Linked DNA regions of Homo sapiens. The protein of the gene in region 2 purifies or fractionates together with the protein of the main gene of each other region. This does not show direct contact. Each region holds a gene or a part of one and is shown on either strand. Other genes may lie near its edges.

What was found.
Region 1: the proteins of CYP3A43 (region 2) and HP purify together in Homo sapiens (affinity purification with mass spectrometry; one large-scale study listed by BioGRID and IntAct). This does not show direct contact.
Region 3: the proteins of CYP3A43 (region 2) and FGB purify together in Homo sapiens (affinity purification with mass spectrometry; one large-scale study listed by BioGRID and IntAct). This does not show direct contact.
Region 4: the proteins of CYP3A43 (region 2) and LTF purify together in Homo sapiens (affinity purification with mass spectrometry; one large-scale study listed by BioGRID and IntAct). This does not show direct contact.
Region 5: the proteins of CYP3A43 (region 2) and PRTN3 purify together in Homo sapiens (affinity purification with mass spectrometry; one large-scale study listed by BioGRID and IntAct). This does not show direct contact.

What each region holds. Positions count from the first base shown.
Region 1 is NC_000016.10:72,056,096-72,062,602, forward strand, and holds the end of HP (haptoglobin isoform 1 preproprotein), read left to right. Parts: intron 1-65; coding exon 66-148; intron 149-434; coding exon 435-536; intron 537-1,296; coding exon 1,297-1,371; intron 1,372-2,158; coding exon 2,159-2,260; intron 2,261-3,018; coding exon 3,019-3,093; intron 3,094-4,016; coding exon 4,017-4,795; 3' UTR 4,796-4,960; downstream 4,961-6,507. UniProt on the Homo sapiens protein: As a result of hemolysis, hemoglobin is found to accumulate in the kidney and is secreted in the urine. Haptoglobin captures, and combines with free plasma hemoglobin to allow hepatic recycling of heme iron and to prevent kidney damage.
Region 2 is NC_000007.14:99,850,958-99,856,913, forward strand, and holds part of CYP3A43 (cytochrome P450 3A43), read left to right. Parts: intron 1-4,633; coding exon 4,634-4,761; intron 4,762-5,875; coding exon 5,876-5,942; intron 5,943-5,956. UniProt on the Homo sapiens protein: Exhibits low testosterone 6-beta-hydroxylase activity.
Region 3 is NC_000004.12:154,563,555-154,569,510, forward strand, and holds part of FGB (fibrinogen beta chain isoform 1 preproprotein), read left to right. Parts: intron 1-2,253; coding exon 2,254-2,445; intron 2,446-2,934; coding exon 2,935-3,118; intron 3,119-4,038; coding exon 4,039-4,266; intron 4,267-4,826; coding exon 4,827-4,940; intron 4,941-5,627; coding exon 5,628-5,753; intron 5,754-5,956. UniProt on the Homo sapiens protein: Cleaved by the protease thrombin to yield monomers which, together with fibrinogen alpha (FGA) and fibrinogen gamma (FGG), polymerize to form an insoluble fibrin matrix. Fibrin has a major function in hemostasis as one of the primary components of blood clots.
Region 4 is NC_000003.12:46,453,331-46,459,286, reverse strand, and holds part of LTF (lactotransferrin isoform 1 preproprotein), read left to right. Parts: intron 1-2,888; coding exon 2,889-2,997; intron 2,998-3,308; coding exon 3,309-3,491; intron 3,492-3,844; coding exon 3,845-3,992; intron 3,993-4,926; coding exon 4,927-4,982; intron 4,983-5,956. UniProt on the Homo sapiens protein: Transferrins are iron binding transport proteins which can bind two Fe(3+) ions in association with the binding of an anion, usually bicarbonate. Lactoferricin binds to the bacterial surface and is crucial for the bactericidal functions.
Region 5 is NC_000019.10:844,773-849,567, forward strand, and holds the end of PRTN3 (myeloblastin precursor), read left to right. Parts: intron 1-1,374; coding exon 1,375-1,605; intron 1,606-2,977; coding exon of another isoform or gene 2,978-2,998; exon of another isoform or gene 2,999-3,026; coding exon 3,027-3,197; 3' UTR 3,198-3,403; downstream 3,404-4,795. UniProt on the Homo sapiens protein: Serine protease that degrades elastin, fibronectin, laminin, vitronectin, and collagen types I, III, and IV (in vitro).

The DNA.
Region 1 (6,507 bases), on a different chromosome or scaffold from region 2:
GATGCATGCATGTGCTGTGAAGCAGGGAGACTAGCTTTCCACTCCTCCTTGTCTTCTCTCTGCAGTGCCCTGGGAGCTGTCATTGCCCTCCTGCTCTGGGGACAGCTTTTTGCAGTGGACTCAGGCAATGATGTCACGGATATCGCAGGTCAGTCTTTGGTTGGGTAGGAGTGTGCATCCCACTCTGACCCTCTCGGGTCTGCACTCTCTCTGAGAACACCCAATTCCCCCTTCTTATCTCGACCTCTGGGCTTTCAGGACCATAAAGAACATTGGGGTTCCTGCCAGAAATGAGGGGAGCTTGCCTTTCCATTGGCTTCTATTCGGGGTGGAAGGAGATTGATGTGCAGAGCAGCTCCCGCTCATCTGACTTTTCACGGTTCACTGGGAACAATTTCCAAATAGCAAACTCTCTGGCTTCTCTCTCTTTGCAGATGACGGCTGCCCGAAGCCCCCCGAGATTGCACATGGCTATGTGGAGCACTCGGTTCGCTACCAGTGTAAGAACTACTACAAACTGCGCACAGAAGGAGATGGTAAGATGTGGACAACTGTCTCCATGCCCTACATACAACCCCCTTCTCTGACATTTCCATGATGGGTGGTGCTGAGGTGATTCGCCAGAAAGTTCGTTGCTCTCCTTGGAGCCAGGAGATTTAGATTCTAATAAGCGTTTTGTCGCCAGTAGCCATGGCCCTTTGGGCAGACTAACTTTTGTCAGCCTCAAGTTTTCTGTTTTGTTAAGGGGAGGCGATGCCATGCAGCCTACCTCATGTAAATCTCAGAGTCACATTTACATCTCCAGCAGATGTGGGAAAAGAAGGAATGCTGATGATGATGTCACCCTCACCTAGTGAGTCTTGCTGTCCTGGCACTGCTCTAAGGGCTTTATACTTATTTGCTCACTTAGTCCTCACAGTATCCCTCTGAACAGAGTTTATTGTTTTCACTTTGCTGATAAGGAAACTGAGGCACAGACAGGTTGAGTATCTTGCCCAAATTCAGGCAGCCTGTAAGAGGCAGAGTCAGGATTTGAACCCTGAGCCCTCCCTGTACTGCTTGGCTGTGACCGCCATGACCACAGTGTGTTCTGCTGGGCTTAACTGGTGTCCAGGCACTTGGCTTCCAGCACAGCACTCTTTCCCTTCCTCCTTCTCATATTCTCTCTCCTTTCTCCCTTCCTGTCTGCCTCCTTTCTTCTTCTTCTTTTTAATTCTTCTCCTTAAATGCCTTCTCACTCTGCTCTGGGTGCAGACTTGACTTTTCCTTTGGCTCATTTCTTGCCTTTTGTTTCAGGAGTATACACCTTAAATGATAAGAAGCAGTGGATAAATAAGGCTGTTGGAGATAAACTTCCTGAATGTGAAGCAGGTGGGTGCTGAGCACTGAGCACTTAAGAGAGCAGGCAGGCGTCCAGCGGGGAACGTCCTAGAGGCACAGCCTTCCAGTGCGGCTTCCTCTGAGCACACAAGAGCCAGGAGGAGGGATGTGGGAGAACCGCAGCTGGCCAGGGAGAGACTTAAGCAGTTAGGTGATGACTCCCTAAGGGTCACCAAGGGTCTTGTTCATTGGGGCCTGAAGGGCACTGGCTGAATCCACTGTCGGCACTGCCCACAGATCAGGAGAGCCTGTGCATACAGAGAGCCTGCTAGAAAGCCCTGGGTCTAAGGAGAAGCAAGCTCCAGGGAGAACAAGTCAAGGAATGACATAAAATCTTAATCCATGGAAGCCTAGCAGGAGGCTGGACATGGGCTGGAACTCCTGCTTCTCGTTATTAGGAGGAGCTGTTGCTCTCTCCTTTCATTCTCAGAACCAGAGGCAAAGACCCAGCCTCTTCTGCTCTTACTGGTGTGGAAATGCCAACCTGCCTCGTATTAACTGCACCATCTACAAAATCTGAGCTCCAGCCAGTGCTGCTCTAGATTCATCTTTCTTTAGAGAGAATGAATTATTGTAGCCCCTAGCCCTTTCAATGAATTTCAGGGAATTGTGGAAATTCCTTTATTGGGATAATTGTTTAAAAATAATACAGTTCGCGAGCTTCTATTCGGGGTGGAAGGAGATTGATGTGCAGAGCAGCTCCCGCTCATCTGACTTTTCACGGTTCACTGGGAACAATTTCCAAATAGCAAACTCTCTGGCTTCTCTCTCTTTGCAGATGACGGCTGCCCGAAGCCCCCCGAGATTGCACATGGCTATGTGGAGCACTCGGTTCGCTACCAGTGTAAGAACTACTACAAACTGCGCACAGAAGGAGATGGTAAGATGTGGACAACTGTCTCCATGCCCTACATACAACCCCCTTCTCTGACATTTCCATGATGGGTGGTGCTGAGGTGATTCGCCAGAAAGTTCGTTGCTCTCCTTGGAGCCAGGAGATTTAGATTCTAATAAGCGTTTTGTCGCCAGTAGCCATGGCCCTTTGGGCAGACTAACTTTTGTCAGCCTCAAGTTTTCTGTTTTGTTAAGGGGAGGCGATGCCATGCAGCCTACCTCATGTAAATCTCAGAGTCACATTTACATCTCCAGCAGATGTGGGAAAAGAAGGAATGCTGATGATGATGTCACCCTCACCTAGTGAGTCTTGCTGTCCTGGCACTGCTCTAAGGGCTTTATACTTATTTGCTCACTTAGTCCTCACAGTATCCCTCTGAACAGAGTTTATTGTTTTCACTTTGCTGATAAGGAAACTGAGGCACAGACAGGTTGAGTATCTTGCCCAAATTCAGGCAGCCTGTAAGAGGCAGAGTCAGGATTTGAACCCTGAGCCCTCCCTGTACTGCTTGGCTGTGACCGCCATGACCACAGTGTGTTCTGCTGGGCTTAACTGGCATCCAGGCACTTGGCTTCCAGCACAGCACTCTTTCCCTTCCTCCTTCTCATATACTCTCTCCTTTTCCCCTTCCTTTTTGTCCCCTTTTCCTCTTCCTTTTAGTTCTTCTCTTTAAATGCCTTCTCACTCTGCACGGGGTCTAGACTTGACTTCTCCTTTGGCTCACTTCTTGCCTTTTGTTTCAGGAGTGTACACCTTAAACAATGAGAAGCAGTGGATAAATAAGGCTGTTGGAGATAAACTTCCTGAATGTGAAGCAGGTGGGTGCTGAGCACTTAAGAGAGCAGGCAGGCGTCCAGCGGGGAACGTCCTAGAGGCACAGCCTTCCAGTGCGGCTTCCTCTGAGCACACAAGAGCCAGGAGGAGGGATGTGGGAGAACCGCAGCTGGCCAGGGAGAGACTTAAGCAGTTAGGTGATGACTCCCTAAGGGTCACCAAGGGTCTTGTTCATTAGGGCCTGAAGGGCACTGGCTGAATCCATTGTCTACATCGCCCACAGATTAGGAGAGCCTGTGCATACAGAGAGCCTGCTAGAGAGCCCTGGGTCTAAGGAGAAGCAAGCTCCAGGGAGAACAAGTCAAGGAATGACATAAAATCTTAATCCATGGAAGCCTAGCAGGAGGCTGGACATGGGCTGGAACTCCTGCTTCTCGTTATTAGGAGGAGCTGTTGCTCTCTCCTTTCATTCTCAGAACAAGAGGCAAAGGCCCAGCCTCTTCTGCTCTTACTGGTGTGGAAATGCCAACCTGCCTCGTATTAACTGCACCATCTACAAAATCTGAGCTCCAGCCAGTGCTGCTCTAGATTCATCTTTCTTTAGAGAGAATGAATTATTGTAGCCCCTAGCCCTTTCAATGAATTTCAGGGAATTGTGGAAATTCCTTTATTGGGATAATTGTTTAAATATAATACAGTTCACCAGCCAGGGCTCAAAAATCTCAGTATTTCCCACTTCCTTTGTTAGAAAAGTGGGAAATAGAGCTTTTTGTAATGTAAACAATTTAAAAAACAGAATTATTTTAAAACTGCAACTATTGGAAATGAGATCAGCAGGTGGTAAGGGCAAAGCATTTAAATCTTTCTACTTTACGCAGCAGTGACAGCCGCCCATGCTTTCACCCCTTTCTCAGATGGAAAGGCTCTTGCACATTTCCACTCACGAGTGTCTTGCTCTCCTTGACAGTATGTGGGAAGCCCAAGAATCCGGCAAACCCAGTGCAGCGGATCCTGGGTGGACACCTGGATGCCAAAGGCAGCTTTCCCTGGCAGGCTAAGATGGTTTCCCACCATAATCTCACCACAGGTGCCACGCTGATCAATGAACAATGGCTGCTGACCACGGCTAAAAATCTCTTCCTGAACCATTCAGAAAATGCAACAGCGAAAGACATTGCCCCTACTTTAACACTCTATGTGGGGAAAAAGCAGCTTGTAGAGATTGAGAAGGTTGTTCTACACCCTAACTACTCCCAGGTAGATATTGGGCTCATCAAACTCAAACAGAAGGTGTCTGTTAATGAGAGAGTGATGCCCATCTGCCTACCTTCAAAGGATTATGCAGAAGTAGGGCGTGTGGGTTATGTTTCTGGCTGGGGGCGAAATGCCAATTTTAAATTTACTGACCATCTGAAGTATGTCATGCTGCCTGTGGCTGACCAAGACCAATGCATAAGGCATTATGAAGGCAGCACAGTCCCCGAAAAGAAGACACCGAAGAGCCCTGTAGGGGTGCAGCCCATACTGAATGAACACACCTTCTGTGCTGGCATGTCTAAGTACCAAGAAGACACCTGCTATGGCGATGCGGGCAGTGCCTTTGCCGTTCACGACCTGGAGGAGGACACCTGGTATGCGACTGGGATCTTAAGCTTTGATAAGAGCTGTGCTGTGGCTGAGTATGGTGTGTATGTGAAGGTGACTTCCATCCAGGACTGGGTTCAGAAGACCATAGCTGAGAACTAATGCAAGGCTGGCCGGAAGCCCTTGCCTGAAAGCAAGATTTCAGCCTGGAAGAGGGCAAAGTGGACGGGAGTGGACAGGAGTGGATGCGATAAGATGTGGTTTGAAGCTGATGGGTGCCAGCCCTGCATTGCTGAGTCAATCAATAAAGAGCTTTCTTTTGACCCATTTCTGTGTTGTGTTCAGTCTTGAGTCTTTTTTATTTGCTCCTTTATGGTCCAGGGTAGTCAGAAGGTATAGAGTCTACTGGGAGTATGGCAGAAAACACCCTAAACCCACTGGAAATCCCGAAGGTGATACAAACTCTTCCACCTTAGGGAATCATGCTCACTGATTGAGTGCCTATTGAATGCTAGGTCCCAGAAAGTTAACTGTTGTCCTTGTTTTACAGACAAGGAAACAGAGACTCAGAGATGGTAAGTGAGTTGCTTAAGGTTACATAGCTATGAAACAGGGAAGCAGAACTTTGAACCCAGGTCTGTTTGATACAAACTCAGAGGTCCTTTCACTGCATGCTGTTGCCTCCTCAAAGTGAATTAGGAGAAAAGGCATGGGCCTGGTTGAGGAAGAGGCTAGCTCAAAATGGGATGGGGAAAAAGTGTTTTAACACAGACAGTACTTCAGAGTTTGGGATCTAACCTACCAGCACTCCAGAAAACAAAAGACAATGATGTAAAGGCAGGATCTCTGGACTTACTGAGTCCAAATCACAGAATGGCCCATAAATTTGCTAAGTAATTTAGGTTTCCTGGCCATCAGTTCCTGGTCTCTTCCATGAAGGACTTGAGCCAGGCGATGGCTAATGTCCCTATCAGCAATAACCTTCTGGTATTCCATAAAGAGTGGGGAGGTAGAGTCCCTGCATCAGTAGAAGCTGCTTTTCCTACTGGGAACAAACCCACCCTGCACCAGGAATCAAATGCAGGCTGTCTGAGCCTCCTCTCCTGATGGCAGGTCATGCTATTAAGGGTCTCCCAGAAGAAAGGTTCTGGAACTCTGAGAAACAGAAGCTCTTCTAACAGAACTTTTTCTTGCTATAAGCTTTCAATACCACCAATCACCAGTGCACCTTCTTCTCATGCCAAAATACGGCCCCTCCTTTGTAGGGTGTAAAACGACACTGATGTCACTCTCTCTCACCAAGGTCTGGCCATCTCTGTGAAGCTCTCCTCACAGGCACCCTGCAGATTCATCAATAAACTTCAACAGGTTAGCGCCAGTAGGCCAATAAGATGCACACTTATATTCTAGAACCTGTGAAAGAAGTAATAGCCAGAAACTGGAAAATAACAGTCAAACTCTTAAAAAAATGCCTCTCAGAACACAGTCACTTACACCTTTTCCTCTGGTAGTTCTCTTCAGCACCAAGTTTCCTGGAAGAACAAGCTACTCCCCAGTTTTCTTAAAGAATTGTCTGATTGTATTAAGTAAGTGGCTTCTGGTAAAATAATGGTAAGAGAAAAGCTCTGGCATTCTCTTGATCACTCATCTTCTCTGCCTTCCTCCCTAGCAACATCTCCTGGCCTCAGCCTGTGGGCTTCAGCAACACCAAACTCCATGTTGCTCTCTGACAAGCCCGGCCGTCTCCAGTTCTTGGGCTTTATTTCCTCGGGGGCCCTCTGCTGAAATTCCCTTCCCCTTGCTGTATTAGCACCTCCTACCCGCCTTCAACATGCAGGCACTGCCTCCTCTAAGGAGCCATCTGTACTTACGTA
Region 2 (5,956 bases):
AGAGATCAAGACCATCCTTGCCAACTTGGCGAAACCCTGTCTCTACTAAAAATACAAAAATTAGTCAGGCATGGTGGCGGGTGTCTGTAATCCCAGCTATCAGGAACCTGAGGCAGGAGAATCACTGGAACCCAGAGGTGGAGGTTACAGTGAGCTGAGATCGCACCACTGCACTCCAGCCTGGTGACAGAGCAAGACCCCGTCTAAAAAAAAAAAAGATATGCTGCATTTTGCTTATCCATTCATAGTTGATGGACATTTGTGTTGTTTCTACCTTTCAACTATTGTGAATAGTGCTGCTGTGAATAGTTGTTTACAAGTTTATGTTTGAATACTTGATTTTTCTTCTTTTAGGTATATATTCAGCAGTGGAATGGAGGCGTTTTATAGTAGTAATTCCATGTTTCACTTCTTAAGGAGTTTCTAAACTGTTTCCCACAACAGCTGCACCATTTTACCAGGAGCATATAATGGTTCTAATTTCTCTACATTCTTGCCAACACTTGGTTTTCTCATTTGTTTATAGACACCTTACTACATGTGAACTGGTCTCATCGTGATTTTGATTTACTCTTCTCTAATGGCTAATAAAATTGAGCAACATTGGCCATCTTTATATCTTCTTTAGATAAATGTCTGTTCAAGTCTTTTGCCCATATACAGCTGAATTCTTTTTGTTAATTGGTAAGAGTTCTTTACATATTCTACATACAACTTCCTTCTCAGGCATATGATTTGCAAAATTGTTCTCCCATTCTATACATGTCTTTTTACTTTCTTGATATTGTTCTTTGAACTTTATCTTCTTTGAACTGTATCTTCTTTGAACTTCTTTGAACTTTAATTTTGATGATGCACGATTTGCGTATTTTTCTTTTATTGCTTATCCTGTAGGTATCAAATCTAAGAATCTATTGCCAATTGTGAGCTCATGAAGATTTGCCCTCTTGGTTTTCTTTTAAGGGTTGTATAGTTTTAGCTCTTCTGTTTAGGTCTTCGATGCATCTTGATTTTCATTTTATATGCCGTGTGACGTAAGAGCCCAGCTTTATTCTTACACTTGGCTATCCAGTTGTCCTAGGACCATTTGTTGAAAAGACGATTTTGTCCCCATTCAATGATCATGACACCTTCCTCAAAATTCAGTGGACCAGAGACATGTGGATGTATTCTGGACTGTAAATTCTATTCTGTTGAACTATACTTCTATCTTTATGCCAGTATCACATTGTCCTGATTATTAGAGCTTTGTGGTAAGTTTTGAAATTGGGAAGTATGAGTCCTGCAACTTGATTCTTTTTCAACATTGTTCTGGCTACTCTGCATCCCTTACAATTCCAAATCAATTTTAAAATCAACTTGTCAATTTCTACAAAGAATCTAGCTAGGATTCTGATAATACATTAAATCTGCAGATCCATTTGAGAAGTATTGCCATTTTGACCTTTTTAAGTTTTCTAATCTGTGAACACGGGGTGGTGATTCCTTTTATTTAGATACTCTTTCATTTATTTCAACAGTGTTTTGTATTTTTCAGAGTCTGGGTTTTGCACTTTTGTTAATGTTATTCCTGATAAGTGTATCACTAATATTTTGATGTTATGGTAAATACAATTTTTTAATTCCACTTTTGGATTGTATATTGTAACGTACAGAAATACAGTTTATTTCTGTATATTGACCTTCTATCTTCAAATATTTCTGAACACATTTGTTAGTTTTAATAGGTAAATAGAAGTGCTGAGAGAGGTATCCTTGTCTCATTCATGATCTTAGGGGGAAAGGTACTAAGTATGGTTAGCTATGGGTTTCATAGATGCCCTGTATCAGGTGGAAGAATTCTCTTCTATTTTTAGTTGCTGAGTGTTTTTATCACAAAAGTCTTTTGGATTTTTGTCAAATGCTTTTACTCATACTGAGACGATTGTGTGTTTTCATTTAATTGACATGGTATATTACACAACCTTGTTTCCCTGGGGTAAACCCCTCTTGGTTATGGTATATAATTATTTTTATATGTTGCTAGATTGATCCAGTTTGCTAGTATTTTGTTAAGGATTTGTGCATTTATATTTACAAGATATGTTAGTCTGTAGTTTCTTTATCCTGTGATATATTTTTCCAGTTTTAATATGATGGTAATACTGGCCTTATAGAATGAATTTGGAAATGTTCCCTCATTTCCTAGTTTTTGAAAGTGTTTGTAGAATGGATATTAATTCTCCTTTAAATATTAGGTAGAATTCATTATTGGAACTATCTGGCCTGGCCTTTTCTTTGTGGGTAGTTTTGATTACTGATTCAATGCCTTTATATGTTATAGATCTATTCAGATTGTCTGTTTCTTTCCAACTCAGTTTCTGTAGTTTGTGTCTTTCAAAGAATTTATCCATTTTACCTGTTATCTAATTTATACAATTGTTCTAATAATAAAATTGTTAAGAGAATATCCTTATGCTAATTTTTATTTTTCTTAAATGTCAATAGTAATTATTTCCCTTCTTTTATTTCTGAGACTAGTAAACTGAGTCATCTCTTATTTCTTCATCAATGTAGCTAAAAGTTTGCCAATTTTGATGATATTTTCTTTTGTGGTAAAATTTGAGCTTTTTTTTTGAGATGGACTTTTGCTCTTGCCGCTCAGGCTGGAGTGCAATGGCACGATGTTGGCTCACTGCAACCTCCACCTCCTGGGGTCAAGCTATTCTCCTGCCTCAGCCTCCAGAGTAGTTGGGACTACAGGCATGCAATACTATGCCCGGCTAATTTTTGTATTTTTAGTAAAGACAAGGTTTTTACTGTTGGTCAAGCTGGTCTCGAATTCCTGACCTCAGGTGATCCACCTGCCTCGGCCTCCCAAAGTGCTGGGATTATAGGCGTGAGCCACCGCGCCCAGCCTTGAGCTTTATTTTTTATTTTTAACTTTTGTGGATACACAGTTGGTGTATGCATTTATGGGGTACACGAGATGGTTTTGATACAGGCATGAAATGTGAAATAAGAGCATTATGGAGAATGGGGAATCCATCCCCTCAAGCATTTATCCATTGAATTGCAGACATTCCAATTGCACTCTAAATGATTTTAAAATGTACAGTTATTATTGACTGTAGTCACTCTGTTGTGCTATCAAACCATAGGTCTTATTCATTCTTTCTAACTATTTTTTGTAACCTTTTATTATCCTTACCTCCCCCGCCCCCACTACCCTTCCCAGAGTCTGGTCACCATCCTTCTACTCTCTATGTCCATGAGTTTTGAGTTTTGATAATTTTTTTTTTTTTTTGAGACAGAGTCTCAAAAAAGTTGCGTGATCTAGGCTCACTGAAACCTCTGCCTCCCGGGTTTAAGCAATTCTCCTTTCTCACCCTCCTGAGTAGCTGGGATTACAAGTGTCCACCACCATGCCCAGCTAACTTTTGCATTTTTAGTAGGGACGGGGTTTTGCCATGTTGGTCAGGCTGGTCTAACTCCTCACCTCAGGTGATCCACCCGCCTCAGCCTCCCAAAGTGCTAGGATTACAGGCGTGAGCCACCGCGCCCGGCTGATGATATTTTCAAGGAACCAATTTTTGGTTTTCTTTATTGCTTTTAAATCTGTATTTCATTAGGTTACACTTTAGTTTTTATTATTTTCCCCCTTTCTGCTGGCTTTAGTTTTACTTTGCTCTTCATTTTTCAGTGTGTTATGGTATACATTTAGGTTATTGATTTGAGATTATCTGACATTCACAACTATAAATTTCCCTCTGAACATTGCTTTGGCTACATCCCATACGCTTTGGCATATCATGTCTTCATTTTTCTTCATCTCAAAACAATTTCTAATTGTCCTTTTGCTTTCTACTTCAGCTCATTGGTTACTTAAAAGTGTATTGTTTAACTTCCACATATTTGTGAGTTTTCCAATTCTCTTTTCTCTCTCTCTCTTTTTTTTTTTCTTTCGAGAGACATTTTCATTCTGTCACTCAGGCTGGAGTACAGTGGCACAATCTCAGCTCACTGCAACTTGCGCCTCCCTGGTTCAAGCGATTCTCATGACTGGGTCCCAAGTAGCTGGGACTACAGGCACATGCCACCATGCCCGGCTAATTTTTGTATCAGTAGAGATGGGGTTCCGCCATGTTGGTCAGGCTGGTCTCAAACTCCTGACCTCAAGCAATCTGCCTGCCTCAGCCTCCCTAAGTGCAATTCTCTTGCTTTTATTGATTTCTAGTTTCATTCCATGGTAGTTGAAGGACATTTGCCGTATTGTTTCTATCCTGACTACTATTTCATGGAAAAACATGATTCATTAAAGCAGCAGGCTATCCAAAGAGACTCTAGTCCAGTAGATAAAGGCTAAGAAGTCAGGGAATTTAATTCTGTTCCTTTGGTCACTCTGAAGATGCAGAAGGGACCACTGATCTCACTGCTATAGTGGAGGCCCCTATGTGTGGATCTGCTCTTGCTCAGCCATTGGCATGGAAGAGGGGCAAAGGTCATACAGGAAGAGGGGCAAAGGTCATACAGGAAATGGATCCTGGTTGAGAACCCTGAAGTCTATAGGTAGAGAAAATTGTAATTGTTGTAGGTAAATTTCACATTTTTCACTATGATTTATTTTTTCTTTTTCTATTTAATTTTCCTATAGCACTCTTTCCATTTCTTACCCCAGTTTTTGAAGCCCTAAATATCGGTTTGTTTCCAAAAGATGTTACCCATTTTTTAAAAAATTCCATTGAAAGGATGAAAGAAAGTCGCCTCAAAGATAAACAAAAGGTAAAATCTGGTGGTGGTGACATGAGAATGTTCACTTTTTTATTATATTTTTGGGCTGTTTACATACGATTTGTGCACTTATCTGTGTTTTTTAAAGGCAGCTAGAGAACTTTAGACCAAGAGGGTTTTTACATTTTGCTGGGAATAAAGAAGGTGAAGCTTGGGGAAGAAAGAGAATGAGTGAAACAGCATTTGGAATTTAATAATAGGCATGACTTTAGTATATTATGGCATAAATAATGTAGAGATAGAAGCTTTACCGCTTCTCTTCCTTTCAGTAAATTGTCAATAAATTTGACTGTATAAAGTTGCCAATAAATCTGACTGGATAAAAATGACTGATAAAATTATTTTATGGGTATTACAATTTCCCTAGTTCTTATATTAGTAAGGAATCATTTCAAGTCCAAGCCTGTTATTTTTACACCTTCTTCAGCAGGAGTCCCTACCAGGCTACCTGCAGAAGTAAGTGTATGTTAAATTTCAGTCCTGTCATAGCCTGGACTGGGCAGGGGTCTTCTCTGGGCATTGTGGGTGCAAGCTGACTGATCCAACTTTGCCTTTATGAGCCCTGGAGACCAGCCCGATGATGATGCCTCAAAGTCAGGAATGCAGGACTGGGTCCCCTAGGTGACACTGAACGTTGTATAGAGTTCTAGGAGTGGGGAGTATTTGAAGATGCATTCAAATCAGCTCCCCTGGGATTATCCAGAGATTAATCTATTTGTCCATTGGTTAAGAATAAAAGCAGCAGAACAAATAGGATTGAAATTCAGGACTTCTTCCTGTTCAAGAAATTATGACTAGAGAATGAGCTGACAACTCTTTGGCCAGGAAGTTGTGTCCAAAGGCCAGAGAAGCTGAGGATCAGGGAGAGCAAAGACTAAAAAGCAGATAGACATGACAAAAGGATTTCTCTCAAGGAAACATCCTGCTCTCCAAGGTTTTAGATGCATGATTTTATTCTAAACATTGGTGACTCAGGCAACACCCATTACACTTCTGAACTTAAAGAGAGCATATTCTCAGGAGGGGTGCTTAGGACTGGACTCCTGATTCACTTCTGACTTCACAAGTGACTTTCTGTCATTAAAATTTCTCTTTTTGCTTCCAGCATCGAGTAGATTTCTTTCAACAGATGATCGACTCCCAGAATTCCAAAGAAACAAAGTCCCATAAAGGTAACCAAGAACTG
Region 3 (5,956 bases), on a different chromosome or scaffold from region 2:
GGTAATATATATTGTTACTGAGATTACTATTTATAAAAATTATAACTAAGCCTAAAAGCAAAATACATCAAGTGTAATGATAGAAAATGAAATATTGCTTTTTTCAGATGAAAAGTTCAAATTAGAGTTAGTGTGTATTGTTATTATTAATAGTTATGAAACACGGTTCAGTCTAATTTATTTATTTGTAGAACAGTTTGTCCTCAACTATTATTTTTGCTGACTTATTGCTGTTAATTTGCAGTTACTAAAAATACAGAAATGCATTTAGGACAATGGATATTTAAGAAATTTAAATTTTATCATCAAACGTATCATGGCCAAATTTCTTACATATAGCATAGTATCATTAAACTAGAAATAAGAATACACAATAATATTTAAATGAAGTGATTCATTTCGGATCATTATTGAGTTTCAAGGGAACTTGAGTGTTGTACTTATCAGACTCTACATGTAAGAACATATAGTTAATCTGGTTGTGTGTGTAAAAACATATGGTTAATCTGGTTAAGTCTGGTTAATCATATTAGGTAAGAAAAATGTAAAGAATGTGTAAGACGAAATTTTTGTAAAGTACTCTGCAAAGCACTTTCACATTTCTGCTTATCAACTAAACCTCACAGAGATAGTTTAATAGTTTAGGCTTTAAAATGGATTTTGATTATTCAACAAGTGGCCTTCATAATTTCTTTAAGTGTTTTTCTTTAAGTATATACTTTCTTTAAATATTTTTTAAAATTTCCTTTTCTCTAGTAAAGCCAGACCATCCATGCTACCTCTCTAGTGGCACTCTGAAATAAAAAGAAAATAGTTTTCTCTGTTATAATTGTATTTGTAATAAGCAGATGAATCACATTTCTTAAAATTTGTTTTAGAGAGGGTAAGCTCTGACTAGGACCATGACTTCAATGTGAAATATGTATATATCCTCCGAATCTTTACATATTAAGAATGTATATAGTCAACTGGTTAAACAGGAAAATCTGGAACCAGCCTGGCTGGGTTTTAATCTTAGCACCATCCTACTAAATGTTAAATAATATTATAATCTAATGAATAAATGACAATGCAATTCCAAATAGAGTTCATCTGATGACTTCTAGACTCACAAAATTGCAAGAGAGCTCAGTTGTTGCTCAGTTGTTCCAAATCATGTCGTTTGTTAATTTGTAATTAAGCTCCAAAGGATGTATAGCTACTGACAAAAAAAAAAATGAGAATGTAGTTAATCCAAATCAAAACTTTCCTATTGCAATGCGTATTTTCTGCTTCATTATCCTTTAATATAATATTTTAAGTTAGCAAGTAATTTTAATTACAATGCACAAGCCTTGAGAATTATTTTAAATATAAGAAAATCATAATGTTTGATAAAGAAATCATGTAAGAAATTTCAAGATAATGGTTTAACAAATAATTTTGTTGATAGAAGATAAGACTAAAAGTGAAATTCGAAGTGGAGAGGACACTTAAACTGTAGTACTTGTTATGTGTGATTCCAGTAAAAATAGTAATGAGCACTTATTATTGCCAAGTACTGTTCTGAGGGTACCATATGCAATAAGTTATTTAATCCTTACAATAATCTTGTAAGGCAGATTCAAACTATCATTACACTTATTTTACAGATGAGAAAACTGGGGCACAGATAAAGCAACTTGCCCAAGGTCTCATAGCTGTAAGTCAACCCTACGGTCAAGACCTACAAGTAGCCGAGCTCCAGAGTACATTATGAGGGTCAAAGATTGTCTTATTACAAATAAATTCCAAGTAGAATCAACCTTTAATAAGTCTTTAATGTCTCTTAAATATGTTTATATAGGAGTCTAATCACCAATTCACAAAAATGAAAGTAGGGAAATGATTAACAATAATCATAGGAATCTAACAATCCAAGTGGCTTGAGAATATTCATTCTTCTTGACAGTATAGATTCTTTACAATTTCGTAAGTTCCAATGTATGTTTTAGGAATATGAGGTCATTACTATTCATAATCTGATACAGCTTTATCCTAAGGCCTCTCTTTAAAAACTACACTGCATCATAGCTTTTTTGTGCAGTTGGTCTTTCTACTGTTACTGAACAGTAAGCAACCTACAGATTCACTATCACCAACCAGCCAGTTGATGGATCTTAAGCAAATTATCAAGCTTGTGATAACCTAAATTATAAAATGAGGGTGTTGGAATAGTTACATTCCAAATCTTCTATAACACTCTGTATTATATTTCTGCCTCATTCCTTGTAGGGTTTCTTCAGTGCCCGTGGTCATCGACCCCTTGACAAGAAGAGAGAAGAGGCTCCCAGCCTGAGGCCTGCCCCACCGCCCATCAGTGGAGGTGGCTATCGGGCTCGTCCAGCCAAAGCAGCTGCCACTCAAAAGAAAGTAGAAAGAAAAGCCCCTGATGCTGGAGGCTGTCTTCACGCTGACCCAGACCTGGTGGGTGCACTGATGTTTCTTGCAGTGGTGGCTCTCTCATGCAGAGAAAGCCTGTAGTCATGGCAGTCTGCTAATGTTTCACTGACCCACATTACCATCACTGTTATTTTGTTTGTTTATTTTGGAAATAAAATTCAAAACATAAACATATTGGGCCTTTGGTTTAGGCTTTCTTTCTTGTTTTCTTTGGTCTGGGCCCAAAATTTCAAATTAGGATATGTGGGTGCCACCTTTCCATTTGTATTTTGCCACTGCCTTTGTTTAGTTGGTAAAATTTTCATAGCCCAATTATATTTTTTCTGGGGTAAGTAATATTTTAAATCTCTATGAGAGTATGATGATGACTTTCGAATTTCTGGTCTTACAGAAAACCAAATAATAAATTTTTATGTTGGCTAATCGTATCGCTGAATTTTCCTATGTGCTATTTTAACAAATGTCCATGACCCAAATCCTTCATCTAATGCCTGCTATTTTCTTTGTTTTTAGGGGGTGTTGTGTCCTACAGGATGTCAGTTGCAAGAGGCTTTGCTACAACAGGAAAGGCCAATCAGAAATAGTGTTGATGAGTTAAATAACAATGTGGAAGCTGTTTCCCAGACCTCCTCTTCTTCCTTTCAGTACATGTATTTGCTGAAAGACCTGTGGCAAAAGAGGCAGAAGCAAGTAAAAGGTAGATATCCTTGTGCTTTCCATTCGATTTTCAGCTATAAAATTGGAACCGTTAGACTGCCACGAGAATGCATGGTTGTGAGAAGATTAACATTTCTGGGTTAGTGAATAGCATTCATACGCTTTTGGGCACCTTCCCCTGCAACTTGCCAGATAAGCACTATTCAGCTCTTATTCCCAGTCTGACATCAGCAAGTGTGATTTTCTATGAAAAATTCTACTATGACTCCTTATTTTAAGTATACAAGAAACTTGTGACTCAGAAGATAATATTTACAGAGTGGAAAAAAACCCCTAGCATTTATAGTTTTAACATTTGAGGTTTTGAATGAGAGAGTTATCCATAATATATTCAATTGTGTTGTGGATAATGACACCTAACCTGTGAATCTTGAGGTCAGAATGTTGAGTGCTGTTGACTTGGTGGTCAGGAAACAGCTAGTGCGTGAGCCTGGCACAGGCATCTCAGTGAGTAGCATACCCACAGTTGGAAATTTTTCAAAGAAATCAAAGGAATCATGACATCTTATAAATTTCAAGGTTCTGCTATACTTATGTGAAATGGATAAATAAATCAAGCATATCCACTCTGTAAGATTGAACTTCTCAGATGGAAGACCCCAATACTGCTTTCTCCTCTTTTCCCTCACCAAAGAAATAAACAACCTATTTCATTTATTACTGGACACAATCTTTAGCGTATACCTATGGTAAATTACTAGTATGGTGGTTAGGATTTATGTTAATTTGTATATGTCATGCGCCAAATCATTTCCACTAAATATGACTATATATCATAACTGCTTGGTGATAGCTCAGTGTTTAATAGTTTATTCTCAGAAAATCAAAATTGTATAGTTAAATACATTAGTTTTATGAGGCAAAAATGCTAACTATTTCTACATAATTTCATTTTTCCAGATAATGAAAATGTAGTCAATGAGTACTCCTCAGAACTGGAAAAGCACCAATTATATATAGATGAGACTGTGAATAGCAATATCCCAACTAACCTTCGTGTGCTTCGTTCAATCCTGGAAAACCTGAGAAGCAAAATACAAAAGTTAGAATCTGATGTCTCAGCTCAAATGGAATATTGTCGCACCCCATGCACTGTCAGTTGCAATATTCCTGTGGTGTCTGGCAAAGGTAACTGATTCATAAACATATTTTTAGAGAGTTCCAGAAGAACTCACACACCAAAAATAAGAGAACAACAACAACAACAAAAATGCTAAGTGGATTTTCCCAACAGATCATAATGACATTACAGTACATCATAAAAATATCCTTAGCCAGTTGTGTTTTGGACTGGCCTGGTGCATTTGCTGGTTTTGATGAGCAGGATGGGGCACAGGTAGTCCCAGGGGTGGCTGATGTGTGCATCTGCGTACTGGCTTGAACAGATGGCAGAACCACAGATAGATGTAGAAGTTTCTCCATTTTGTGTGTTCTGGGAGCTCATGGATATTCCAGGACACAAAAGGTGGAGAAGAGCTTTGTTCATCCTCTTAGCAGATAAACGTCCTCAAAACTGGGTTGGACTTACTAAAGTAAAATGAAAATCTAATATTTGTTATATTATTTTCAAAGGTCTATAATAACACACTCCTTAGTAACTTATGTAATGTTATTTTAAAGAATTGGTGACTAAATACAAAGTAATTATGTCATAAACCCCTGAACATAATGTTGTCTTACATTTGCAGAATGTGAGGAAATTATCAGGAAAGGAGGTGAAACATCTGAAATGTATCTCATTCAACCTGACAGTTCTGTCAAACCGTATAGAGTATACTGTGACATGAATACAGAAAATGGAGGTAAGCTTTCGACAGTTGTTGACCTGTTGATCTGTAATTATTTGGATACCGTAAAATGCCAGGAAACAAGGCCAGGTGTGGTGGCTCATACCTGTAATTCCAGCACCTTGGGAGGCCAAAGTGGGCTGATAGCTTGAGCCTAGGAGTTTGAAACTAGCCTGGGCAACATAATGAGACCCTAACTCTACAAAAAAAAAAAAAATACCAAAAAAAAAAAAAAATCAGCTGTGTTGGTAGTATGTGCCTGTAGTCCCAGCTATCCAGGAGGCTGAGATGGGAGATCACCTGAGCCCACAACCTGGAGTCTTGATCATGCTACTGAACTGTAGCCTGGGCAACAGAGGATAGTGAGATCCTGTCTCAAAAAAAAAAATTAATTAAAAAGCCAGGAAACAAGACTTAGCTCTAACATCTAACATAGCTGACAAAGAGTAATTTGATGTGGAATTCAACCTGATATTTAAAAAGTTATAAAATATCTATAATTCACAATTTGGGGTAAGATAAAGCACTTGCAGTTTCCAAAGATTTTACAAGTTTACCTCTCATATTTATTTCCTTATTGTGTCTATTTTAGAGCACCAAATATATACTAAATGGAATGGACAGGGGATTCAGATATTATTTTCAAAGTGACATTATTTGCTGTTGGTTAATATATGCTCTTTTTGTTTCTGTCAACCAAAGGATGGACAGTGATTCAGAACCGTCAAGACGGTAGTGTTGACTTTGGCAGGAAATGGGATCCATATAAACAGGGATTTGGAAATGTTGCAACCAACACAGATGGGAAGAATTACTGTGGCCTACCAGGTAACGAACAGGCATGCAAAATAAAATCATTCTATTTGAAATGGGATTTTTTTTAATTAAAAAACATTCATTGTTGGAAGCCTGTTTTAGGCAGTTAAGAGGAGTTTCCTGACAAAAATGTGGAAGCTAAAGATAAGGGAAGAAAGGCAGTTTTTAGTTTCCCAAAATTTTATTTTTGGTGAGATTTTATTTTGTTTTTCTTT
Region 4 (5,956 bases), on a different chromosome or scaffold from region 2:
GAAAGAAGCTTGTCCTGGTCACCGTTGCCACATCACATGGCTGGGGCAGGGCCTGCCAGGGTGCTGGGTGTTAGAAAGACTTTTGTCCAAGACACTTTCAGAGAGAGAGAAAAGGGTATCATGACTTGTATATGATTTCTGATTCCTTTTATTTTTTGAGATGTAAGATCTACTGAAATGATTTTTACTCATTCATTCAACAAATATATTCTGTGTACCTGCCATGTGCCATAATCATGTGTACTCAACTCCAGCAGAGTGAATAATTTGCATAAAAGTTCCCGAGGCAACTTCATAGGATTATCTTATAAATACAATGGAGTTATTAGAATAGCACTTAGGGAAAAATCTAGTTTAATCAATGTTTTAGGCTATTATTTTACAACTATTACCTGCATACAAACAGTACCAGTGGCTGGGCGCGGTGGCTCACGCCCGTAATTTCAGCACTTTGGAGGCCGAGGTGGGAGGATCACCTGAGGTCAGTAGTTCAAAACCAGGATGGCCAACATGGTGAAACCCTGCCTCTACTAAAAATACAAAAATTAGCTGGGTGTGGTGGCACATGCCTGTATTCCCAGCTACTTACAAGGCTGAGGCAGGAGAATCACTTGAACCCGGGAGGGGGAGGTTGCAGTGAGCCAAGATCATGCTATTGCACTCCAGCCTGGGCGACAAGAGCGAGACTCCATCTCAAAAAACAAAAAACAAAAACAAAAAACCAGCACCAGCATCTCTTGCTTGTTTAAAATGCAGATTCCTAGGCTCTATTCTAACCTACTCAATCTGAATATATGTGAAAGAAGCCACAAAATCTGCCTTTTAAAATAAGATCCTGTCCAAGGCCATACCACGCTGAACGCGTCTGATCTCGTCTGATCTCGGAAAATAAGATCCCTGTTTGAAATCAGTACTACATACCATTCATTCAAATAAAGTTGAGATAGATTAAATGGTTAAAAATAAAACTTGTATTATTGAAAAACTAGGGGGCAGGTTAACTAGCAGAACTGTAGAGGAAATAGAAATCTCTTAAATGATGATCTAAATCACGAAACAAACAGATATTCTAAAATACAGAAAATGTAATTCATAGCCCATAGAAAATATTTAAATAAAAAAATTAGAAAGGACTGGAATGAATGAATATGCGCCAGCTCTGACACATGATTACTATTTACACTCTATAAAAGAATAACTCAAGGCCGGGCGTGGTGGCTCACATCTGTAATCCCAGCACTTTGGGAGGTCAAGGCAGGTGGATCACGAGGTCAGGAGATCAAGACCATCCTGGCTAAGATGGTGAAACCCCATCTCTACTAAACATACAAAAAAAAAAAAATTAGCCAGGCATGGTGGCACACGCCTGTAGTCCCAGCTACTCAGGAGGCTGAGGCAAGAGAATCGCTTTAACCCGGGAGGTGGAGGTTGCAGTGAGCTGAGATGGTACCACTGCACTCCAGCCTGGGTGACTCCGCTCGAAAAAATAAATAAATAAAAGAATAACCCAAATTGGAAAAAATGTAGAATCATAGAAGAAAAATGATATGAACAGAGTTACCAGTAAGAGGGAATTCATAATTAATAAAAAATACTTGTGAGATGTTCCCCTTACTAATCAGACCTGAGCGATTTGTTAGTACTCACATTTTCTATAGTAATAACAGCTAATAGAATGATAGCCTGCCCTGCTGGTGATTCAAGAGTGAAGCTGGTCCTCACGGTCAGCGCCATTCTGAATTGGTATTATAAGTCTTCTGGAAGCAGAATGGCAACGGCAGCCCGGGTCACAGGGGGAAACGTGCTCCTCATCTGGGGGATTCCACCCTCAGCTGCCTACCCAAGGACACAAGTGGTCACAAGGAAAAACACTGAGGACAAAGATATTCATGAAAATACAGTCTTCACAGGAAACAGTTAGAAATAAACTTAAATGCTAAACATTGGGGGAAATTATTCAATACACGATAGAACACCCACATTATGAGAAAACATTATGCTGTCTACAAAATCAGTAAAGGCTCTGCAGAAGTTAGAAAATGTATCCAGTTTTAGAGGAATAAGCAGTCCACAAAATATGATGTATCCCAGGGGTCCCCACCACCTGGCCACGGACTGGTACCGGTTGATGGCCTGTTAGGAACTAGACCTCAGACCAGGAGGTGAGCAGAGGGCCAGTGAGCATGACTGCCTGAGCTCCACCTCCTGTCAGATCAGCGGCGGCATTAGATTCTCATAGGAGTGTGAACCCTAGTGTGAACTGTGCATGCGAGGGATCTAGGTTGCACTCCCTATGAGAATCCAATGCCTGATGATCAGAGGTGGAACGGTTTCATCCCAAAACCATTCCCCATCTGTCTGTGGAAAAATTACATTCCCTGAAACTGGTCCTTGGTGGCAAAAAAGTTGGGGACCACTAAACTATCCCACATTGCAAACCAAAGAAATATGTAATCATGTGGGAAGCAATGTGCTGAAGCGGAGGAACATGGTTTCTTATGAAAATTTTAGGATAGCTTAATAACTATATTTTCTATCCAATAAAACAGAACTTAAAAGAAATGAATATAGAGCAAAAATAGAAAGTATCTAGAACAAACGACTTCAAATATAGATGACTGTGAGGGGTGTGATCGGGAGAGTGACACAGGCAGGCAGAGGAGAAAGAGGGCAGGCGCCAGTCTCAGGACTTAGAGGGCTGGTGCTCACTGTCCCAAAACAGGGGTCCTTGGCTCTCACCATCTCTCATAGGAAGTGAGGGGACAGGATGGAAAGCGGACCCCTTTGACGACCCTTCCAGCCATGGAGACTTTTTGAGGTCCTGAAGTCCCACTTGCTGGGTTTGGGTGAGTTTTCTGCTGAAGCCAGTCTGGCCTCTTTACTTTCAGGAAAACAGGGCCGATGCTGTGACCCTTGATGGTGGTTTCATATACGAGGCAGGCCTGGCCCCCTACAAACTGCGACCTGTAGCGGCGGAAGTCTACGGGACCGAAAGACGTGAGTTCTGCCTGGGGACCCAGAGGCCACGGTGGCCTCAGCCTGTGCCCTGAGCTGTGTGGATTAAGACTGGGGGAACATGTGGAGGTGGAGTCTGGGTCACATCACACATGTAGGGAATGGAGTCGCTGGGCTCTGGGCCAGATGAAGGCCGTTCCTCCTGACGCTGACCCACGAGAGGAGGACACACGTGAGCTGTGAGGAAACTGCAGCACAGCATTCCCCCTTCCCACCGGAGACTTTTCAGGATGGGTTGTTTTTGTCCCTCTTGTCCAGGCTAAGAACTTTCAATTCTGTCTGCCCCTTTGCAGAGCCACGAACTCACTATTATGCCGTGGCTGTGGTGAAGAAGGGCGGCAGCTTTCAGCTGAACGAACTGCAAGGTCTGAAGTCCTGCCACACAGGCCTTCGCAGGACCGCTGGATGGAATGTCCCTATAGGGACACTTCGTCCATTCTTGAATTGGACGGGTCCACCTGAGCCCATTGAGGCAGGTAAGATGGCTGGGGGATAGTGAGTGGCCTCAGGCAGGGGGCTCTATTCCAGTTGTAAGCACAGGCCACACAGATCATGCAGGTGAAAGTGTGGGATGAATCAAGGTGGGGGTGAGGCTGGCCAGCTTGTAACATCCTGCTGGCAGGATCCGTTACCCTAGCAGCCCTTGGGAGGCACAGCTGAGTCTGCTCTCGGCAGAGGTGCATGTCTCGAGCTCCCAGCCCCATGACAGAGTCTCTCCTGCAGGGGTGGAGGAAGGGGCCTTGCCCACGGAGACCTCAGGATGGGAGGTGTAACCTGCTGTGACCAGGGCTGGCTCACACTCTGTGGTCCACTTCTCTGTGTTTAACAGCTGTGGCCAGGTTCTTCTCAGCCAGCTGTGTTCCCGGTGCAGATAAAGGACAGTTCCCCAACCTGTGTCGCCTGTGTGCGGGGACAGGGGAAAACAAATGTGCCTTCTCCTCCCAGGAACCGTACTTCAGCTACTCTGGTGCCTTCAAGTGAGTGACCCTGTCCCCTTCTCGTCAGTGGCCAAGTGTCCCTTGGCCTCAGGCCGGGAGGCCTTTTCTCTGGCCCCACATAGAGCCCAGCCTGCTCTTGGGGACGAGAGGAGGTCTGTTCTCCTACTGCTGTGTGTCCAAAGAGAGTGCAGGCCTGCCCAGTGTGTGTTCCCCTCCAGCCTTCCGGGCCCAACTGTGCCCCCAACTTCTCACCAGCCCCACGGGCAGTCACTGTGGCTGTGGGCCCTCCTGTTACCTCAGAGAGCCCTGAATCCAACTTGGCTGCCCTGTTGTCCTGGGTTCCTCATACTAATTTCTGCCGCCTGCCTAACCACAGCAGGACTGAAGGCATCTTGTCATGAGATGTCCAGTCCTGGCTCCTGGTTGGGCAGGACCGCTGCAGTGTCCAGGCTGATGTCCTTCTGCCCACCTGGGCCTCTCCCCGTGGCTGAAGGACAGTGAGCAATGCCTGATTCGCCCCCATCCTCTCTGCCCCCACGCGGAGGCTGAGCTCCCCCTTTTCCCATTCTGTCTGCTGGCACTAGCGTATTTTTGCAGAGGGAGGCCTCCACACTTCCCCACTGGCCAGGGCACACCTGCACACTCAGTCCTGAGGAAAACAGCCACATGAACAGTGATGCTAAGGCTTTACCCTCTTGGGTAGAGGCTTCAAAACTCTCCTTTATATAGAAAAAAGTTTTGTCCTCTTAGCCCTCAAAGCAGAAGATGGGGGCCTCTGGCTAGCACCTGAGTCATTCTTCAGTATCTACCTGGAGGGGGCCCCTACCTTCCCAGCTGGGATGCCCCAAAGCTTCAGAGCCCTGCCCTGCAGGGAGTAGAAACCCATAGATGCTGAGTGCCAGGGCTACTGTTCCACAGGGAGGGGCTGGGGAGGGCTGCCTGTGCTTACCCCTGATGGTTTCTCTTTTCACAGGTGTCTGAGAGACGGGGCTGGAGACGTGGCTTTTATCAGAGAGAGCACAGTGTTTGGTAAGAGCAGGGTAATGAGCCGTGGGTACTGACCCCTTTTATCTTACTTGATCATGACTCTGACCTTTGAGCTAATTAGATTCCTAAGTTCATGGCAGACCATTTTCAAGATTCCTACAGGGCACAGCTCTGATTTTATGATCTTTCATATTTTAAATGATCAGTTTTCTTCAAACCTCCTGTGCCTACTGCCTTTCTCTTCCCCTCATAGACACCCATGCCTAGGTGCTTGGCAATGCGTCCTCCAGTCCTCCAAGACACATGTGCTCATGCAGAACAGATTGTGCTGGTTTGTGTTTCCGGTTTCTGGGTTCATAGAGGTTTTAGTGAGCATTAGAAATCCTGCTACTTGGGTTTTCTGCTCAGCATTTTGTTTTAGAGGTTTATCGGTATTGTTGTATACATGTCTAGCTCAGGGGTCCTAACAGTTGAGGAGTGTTCCGTGGAATACATCCACCTTTTACTTCTCTGTCACCATAGTGATGGACAGAGGTTGTGCTCTCTTTTCCTCTACCACATGCAGCCACACGACTGATACCTTCACCTGTGTTCCTTACTTACGTGCTGGACAGCGTCCCTCCTGGACTTATAATAAAGCAGTTGATGAGTATGTAGAGGCTAAACACACTGCACCCAGGACTAGTGGACATAAGCTCACTACATTTCATGCAAGACCAATAGAGACAGGGCTACTATATTCCACCCAGGGCCACTAGAGAAAGTGACAGACACCCACATTCACTCAGGACCATCAGAGACACACCCCACATCCACCCAGGACCACCAGAGAAAGAGACAACACCCACATTCACCTAGGACCATCAGAGACAGACCCCGCATTCATCAGAGGCCACCAGAAACAGACCTCCACATGCACCCAGGGCCACCAGAGACAGACCCCACATGCACCCAGGATCACCAAGCTGCTGTCTGGAATGACACTCTGCAAGTGTTCTAATTTCCCCACAACTTCA
Region 5 (4,795 bases), on a different chromosome or scaffold from region 2:
GCTTAGAACGGGACTGGGCATACAGGTGGTGCTCAGTAAGTGCTTGGGGCTGGGCACTGTGGCTCACGCCTGTACTCCCAGTACTTTGGGAGGCTGGGATGGGAGGATCACTTGAGGCCAGGAGTTTGGGAGCAGCCTGACCAACCTAGTGAGACCCCATCTCTATAAAAGACATTTTTTTTTTTTTTTTTTTTAGACAGAGTCTCACTCAGTCATCCAGGCTGGAGTGCAGTGGTGCAATCTCGGCTCACTGCCACCTCTGCCTTCCAGGTTCAAGTAATTCTCCTGCCTCAGCCTCCTGAGTAGCTGGGATTACAGGCATGCACCAACACGCTTGGCTAATTTTTGTATTTTTAGTAGAGACGGTGTTTTGCCACGTTGGCCAGGCTGGTCTCGAACTCCTGACCTCAAGTGATCTGCTCTCCTCAGCCTCCCAAAGTGCTGGGATTATAGGAGAGAGCCACCGCGTCCAGCCTACAAAAGAAAAATTTAAAAATCAACCGGGCATGGTAGCACACGCCAAGCCACTCATGAGCTGAGATGGGAGGATCACTTGAGCCCAGGAGGTTGAGGCTGCAGTGAGCTGTGATCATGCCACCACACTCCAGCCTCGGCGACAGAGCAAGACCCCATCTCAAAAAAAAAGTGCTTTGAAGATGAATGAATGGGCCAGGGGCGGTGGCTGTAATCCCAGCACTTTGGGAGGCCGAGGCGGGCGGATCGCCTGAGGTCAGGAGTTTGAGACCAGCCTGATCGATATGGCAAACCCCGTGTCTACTAAAAATACAAAAATTAGCTGGGCGTGACGGCAGGTGTCTGTAGTCCCAGCTACTTGGGAGGCTGAGGCAGCAGAATTGCTTGAACCCAGGAGGCAGAGGTTGCAGTGAGCCGAGATTGTGCCACTGCACTCTAGCCTGGGCAACAAGAGCGAAACTCCATCTCAAAAAAAAAAAAAAGAAAAGAAAGAAAGAAAGAAAACATGAATGAATGGCCGGGCACTATGGCTCACACTTGTAATCCCAGCACTTTCGGAGGCTGAGGAAGGCAGATCACTTGAGGTTGGGAGTTTGAGACCAGGCTGGCCACCTCACCCAATGGGATGGCTCCGGGAGGTTCCAGTGAGCCGAGATCACGCCACTGCATTCCAGCCTGGGTGGCAGAGCAAGACTCCATCTCAAAAGAAAGAAAGAAGGAAAGAAAATGAATGAATACAATAGTGACAAATGGGACAAAGGGGGTCGTGGGGCCCAGGCGGAGGGAGCGGCATCCGCGGCGTTTTGAGGTGGTGGGTGTGGTGGGTGTGGTGGGAGGGCGGCCCGGGCGGCCACCGTGACCTGGAAGCAGCGTCTCACCGCCGCCTGCCTTCTGCCCCAGCTGAGCAGCCCAGCCAACCTCAGTGCCTCCGTCGCCACAGTCCAGCTGCCACAGCAGGACCAGCCAGTGCCCCACGGCACCCAGTGCCTGGCCATGGGCTGGGGCCGCGTGGGTGCCCACGACCCCCCAGCCCAGGTCCTGCAGGAGCTCAATGTCACCGTGGTCACCTTCTTCTGCCGGCCACATAACATTTGCACTTTCGTCCCTCGCCGCAAGGCCGGCATCTGCTTCGTAAGTAACCGTGCCCCCACCCCGGGCACCGGGCTGCCATGAGGGGAGGAGGGCGGCGGCCAGGGTTCCACGCCACCTCTTAGCTGTGTGGCTTCATGCTGTGCCTCAGTCTCCCCACCTGGAAGGTGGGCACACCCAACACCCAACGGGCAGGCTCAGCGGGGTGGGGGCGCTCACATTGCACCTGGCTGCTTGGGTGGGTCTGGGGGTTCCCTGCCCCCCACTCCCCTCTAGGACCACAGGAAGGTGTGGGAGACCCATCCGCCCTCACCGGCGGCCCCTTCCAGAATCCAGGACTCCAGGTATCCAGCGGGAGGCCCATAAATGCCCAGTTCCTACGAAAGACCTCAGCCCCTCCCTGCTCACACTTTTTGTTTGTTTTTGAGACGGAGTGTCGCTCTGTTGTCCAGGCTGGAGTGCAGTGGTGAGATCTCAGCTCACTGCAACCTCCACCTCCCAGGTTCAAGGTATTCTCCTGCCTCAGCCTCCTGAGTAACTAGGTGCACAGGTACCTGCCACCGTGCCTGGCTAATTTTTTTGGTATTTTTAGTAGAGATGAGGTTTCTCCATGTTGACCAGGCTGGTCTTGAACTCCTGGCATCAAGTGATGCCTGGCTGGTGCTCACACATTTTAAAGAAAATTCCAGGCCAGCAGTGGTGGCTCACGCCTGTAATCTCAGCACTTTGGGAGGCCAAAGCGGAAGGATCTTTTGAGTCCAGGAGTTCAAGACCAGCCTGGGCAACATAGCAGGGTGGCATCTCTACAAATAATTTAAATATTAGCTGGGCATGGTGATGTGAGCCTGTAGGCCCAGCTACTCAGGAGGCTAAGGCAGGAGGATCACTTGAGCCTGGGGAGTTCGAGGTTGCAGTGAGCTATGATTGTGCCACTGCACTCCAGCCTGGAGAACAGAGCGAGACCCTGTCTCGAGAGAAAGACAGCCAGCTACTCGGGAGGCCGAGGCAGGAGAATCACTTGAACCCGGGAGGCAGAGGTTGCAGTGAGCCGAGATCACGGCACTGCACTCCAGCCTGGGTGACAGAGCGAGACTCTGTCGCAAACAAAACAAAAACAAAACAAAACAAAACAAAAGGAGAAAGAAAGAAAGAGATAGAGAGAGAAAGAAAGAAGAAAGAAAGAAAAAGAGAGAAAGAAAGAAAGAAAGAAAGAAAAAGAAAGAGAGAGAGAGAGAGAGAGAGAGAGAAAGAAAGAAAGAAAGTTCCATATTGGAAGCATTTTATTCTGAAACAGCTGTGGCTACCCCAGCCCCCTTCCTGGCTGCCTGGGGCCAGCCCGGGTGACTGGCTGTCCCCATCCTCCCGGGAGACTCAGGTGGCCCCTGATGGGTGACTGGCCGTCCCCATCCTCCAGGGAGACTCAGGTGGCCCCTGATGGGTGACTGGCCGTCCCTGTCCTCCAGGGAGACTCAGGTGGCCCCCTGATCTGTGATGGCATCATCCAAGGAATAGACTCCTTCGTGATCTGGGGATGTGCCACCCGCCTTTTCCCTGACTTCTTCACGCGGGTAGCCCTCTACGTGGACTGGATCCGTTCCACGCTGCGCCGTGTGGAGGCCAAGGGCCGCCCCTGAACCGCCCCTCCCACAGCGCTGGCCGGGACCCCGAGCCTGGCTCCAAACCCTCGAGGCGGATCTTTGGACAGAAGCAGCTCTTCCCCGAACACTGTGGCGTCCGGGACGGCCCCACCCGTCCCCCCACACTCCCTCCCACGGGGCTCCGGGAGACAGGCCGGCCCTGCACCTCACCCCACCGTGACCTCAATAAACGTTGAAACTCCCCCTGGCTCCTGTCTGTCCTTCCCATATAGGGAGGGGAGGGGGAACTGCCCACCGTGACCTCAATAAACGTTGAAACTCCCCCTGGCTCCTGTCTGTCCTTCCCATATAGGGAGGGAACCAGGGAGAGGTCCCCTGGGTTCAAGTCCCCGAGCCCCAAACTCAGGATGGGGGGAGTCGGAGCGGGGGATGGGGGCCCAGGTTGCAGGGGGTCTCTCTCCTGGATGCTCGTGGCTGTGGGTTCTAACCCGGCCCCATCAGGGTGGCCCTGGGCAGGTTGTTATTCATCTCCGTGCCTCAGTTTCCTCATCTGGAAAATGGACTCGCCCCAGACGTTTCCTAGAACTGTCCCTGCTGGCTCAGGGACTCCTTGAGGAAGGGGATGGGGATGGGGAAGCAGCCTGGGGGGCTTCCTGGAGGAGGTGGCAGTGCCAGAGCTGCATATCAAGGTGTGAACAGAAACATCCGAAGGGCTGCCAGGCAGGGGGCACAGTCCAGGCAGAGACCTGAGGGCTAGAGGCCAGGGGACGGGGAGGAGGGCAGGCAGGGGAGGGATGTGGGTGCAGGGGAGGGGTAATGGGGTTGGAGCGCTATTTCTCGTAGGAGGGGTAGGCAGGGCAGGAGTTCCCTGGTAGAAGCATGAGCAATGAACTGGGTGGGGGGGTGGCCAGAGGGGAGGTCCGAGGCGGGGAAGAGGTGGGACTCACAGTCCAGCTCAAAGACGGGCAAGTGGCCACTAGAAGGAGGCATTAGCCACAGAGAGGGGACGACCTGCTCCAGGACACGTGTAGAGAAGAAATGAAGCTCATTGCTGGTGTTTTTTTTTTCTTTTTAATATTTTTTTGAGACAGAGTCTCGCTCTGTCACCCAGGCTGGAGTGCAGTGGTGTGATCTCGGCTCACTGCAAGCTCCGCCACCCGGGTTGAAGCGATTCTCCTGCCTCAGCCTCCGGAGTAGCTGGGACTACAGGCACAGACCACCACGCCCAGTTAATTTTTATATTTTTAGTACAGACAGGGTTTCACCACGTTGTCCAGGCTGGTCTCGAACTCCTGACCTCAGGTGGTCCACCCGCCTCAGCTTCCCAAAGTGCTGGGTTTACAGGCGTGAGCCTACTTACTTATTTACAGCTGGCCTACTTATTTATTTTTGAGACAGGGTCTCACTCTGTCGCCCAGTCTGTAGTGCAGTGGTGCAATCTTGGCTTACCGCAGCCTCAACCTCCTGGGCTCAAGTGATCCTCCCACCTCAGCCTCCCGAGTAGCTGGGACTACAGGTGCCACCACACCCAGCTATTTTCTTAGTTTTTGTAGAGACGGGGTCTGGCTGTGTTGCCCAGGTGGGTCCTCAGTGACTCTTTACATATGAACACCTCCAGGTCACTGTAATCTTAG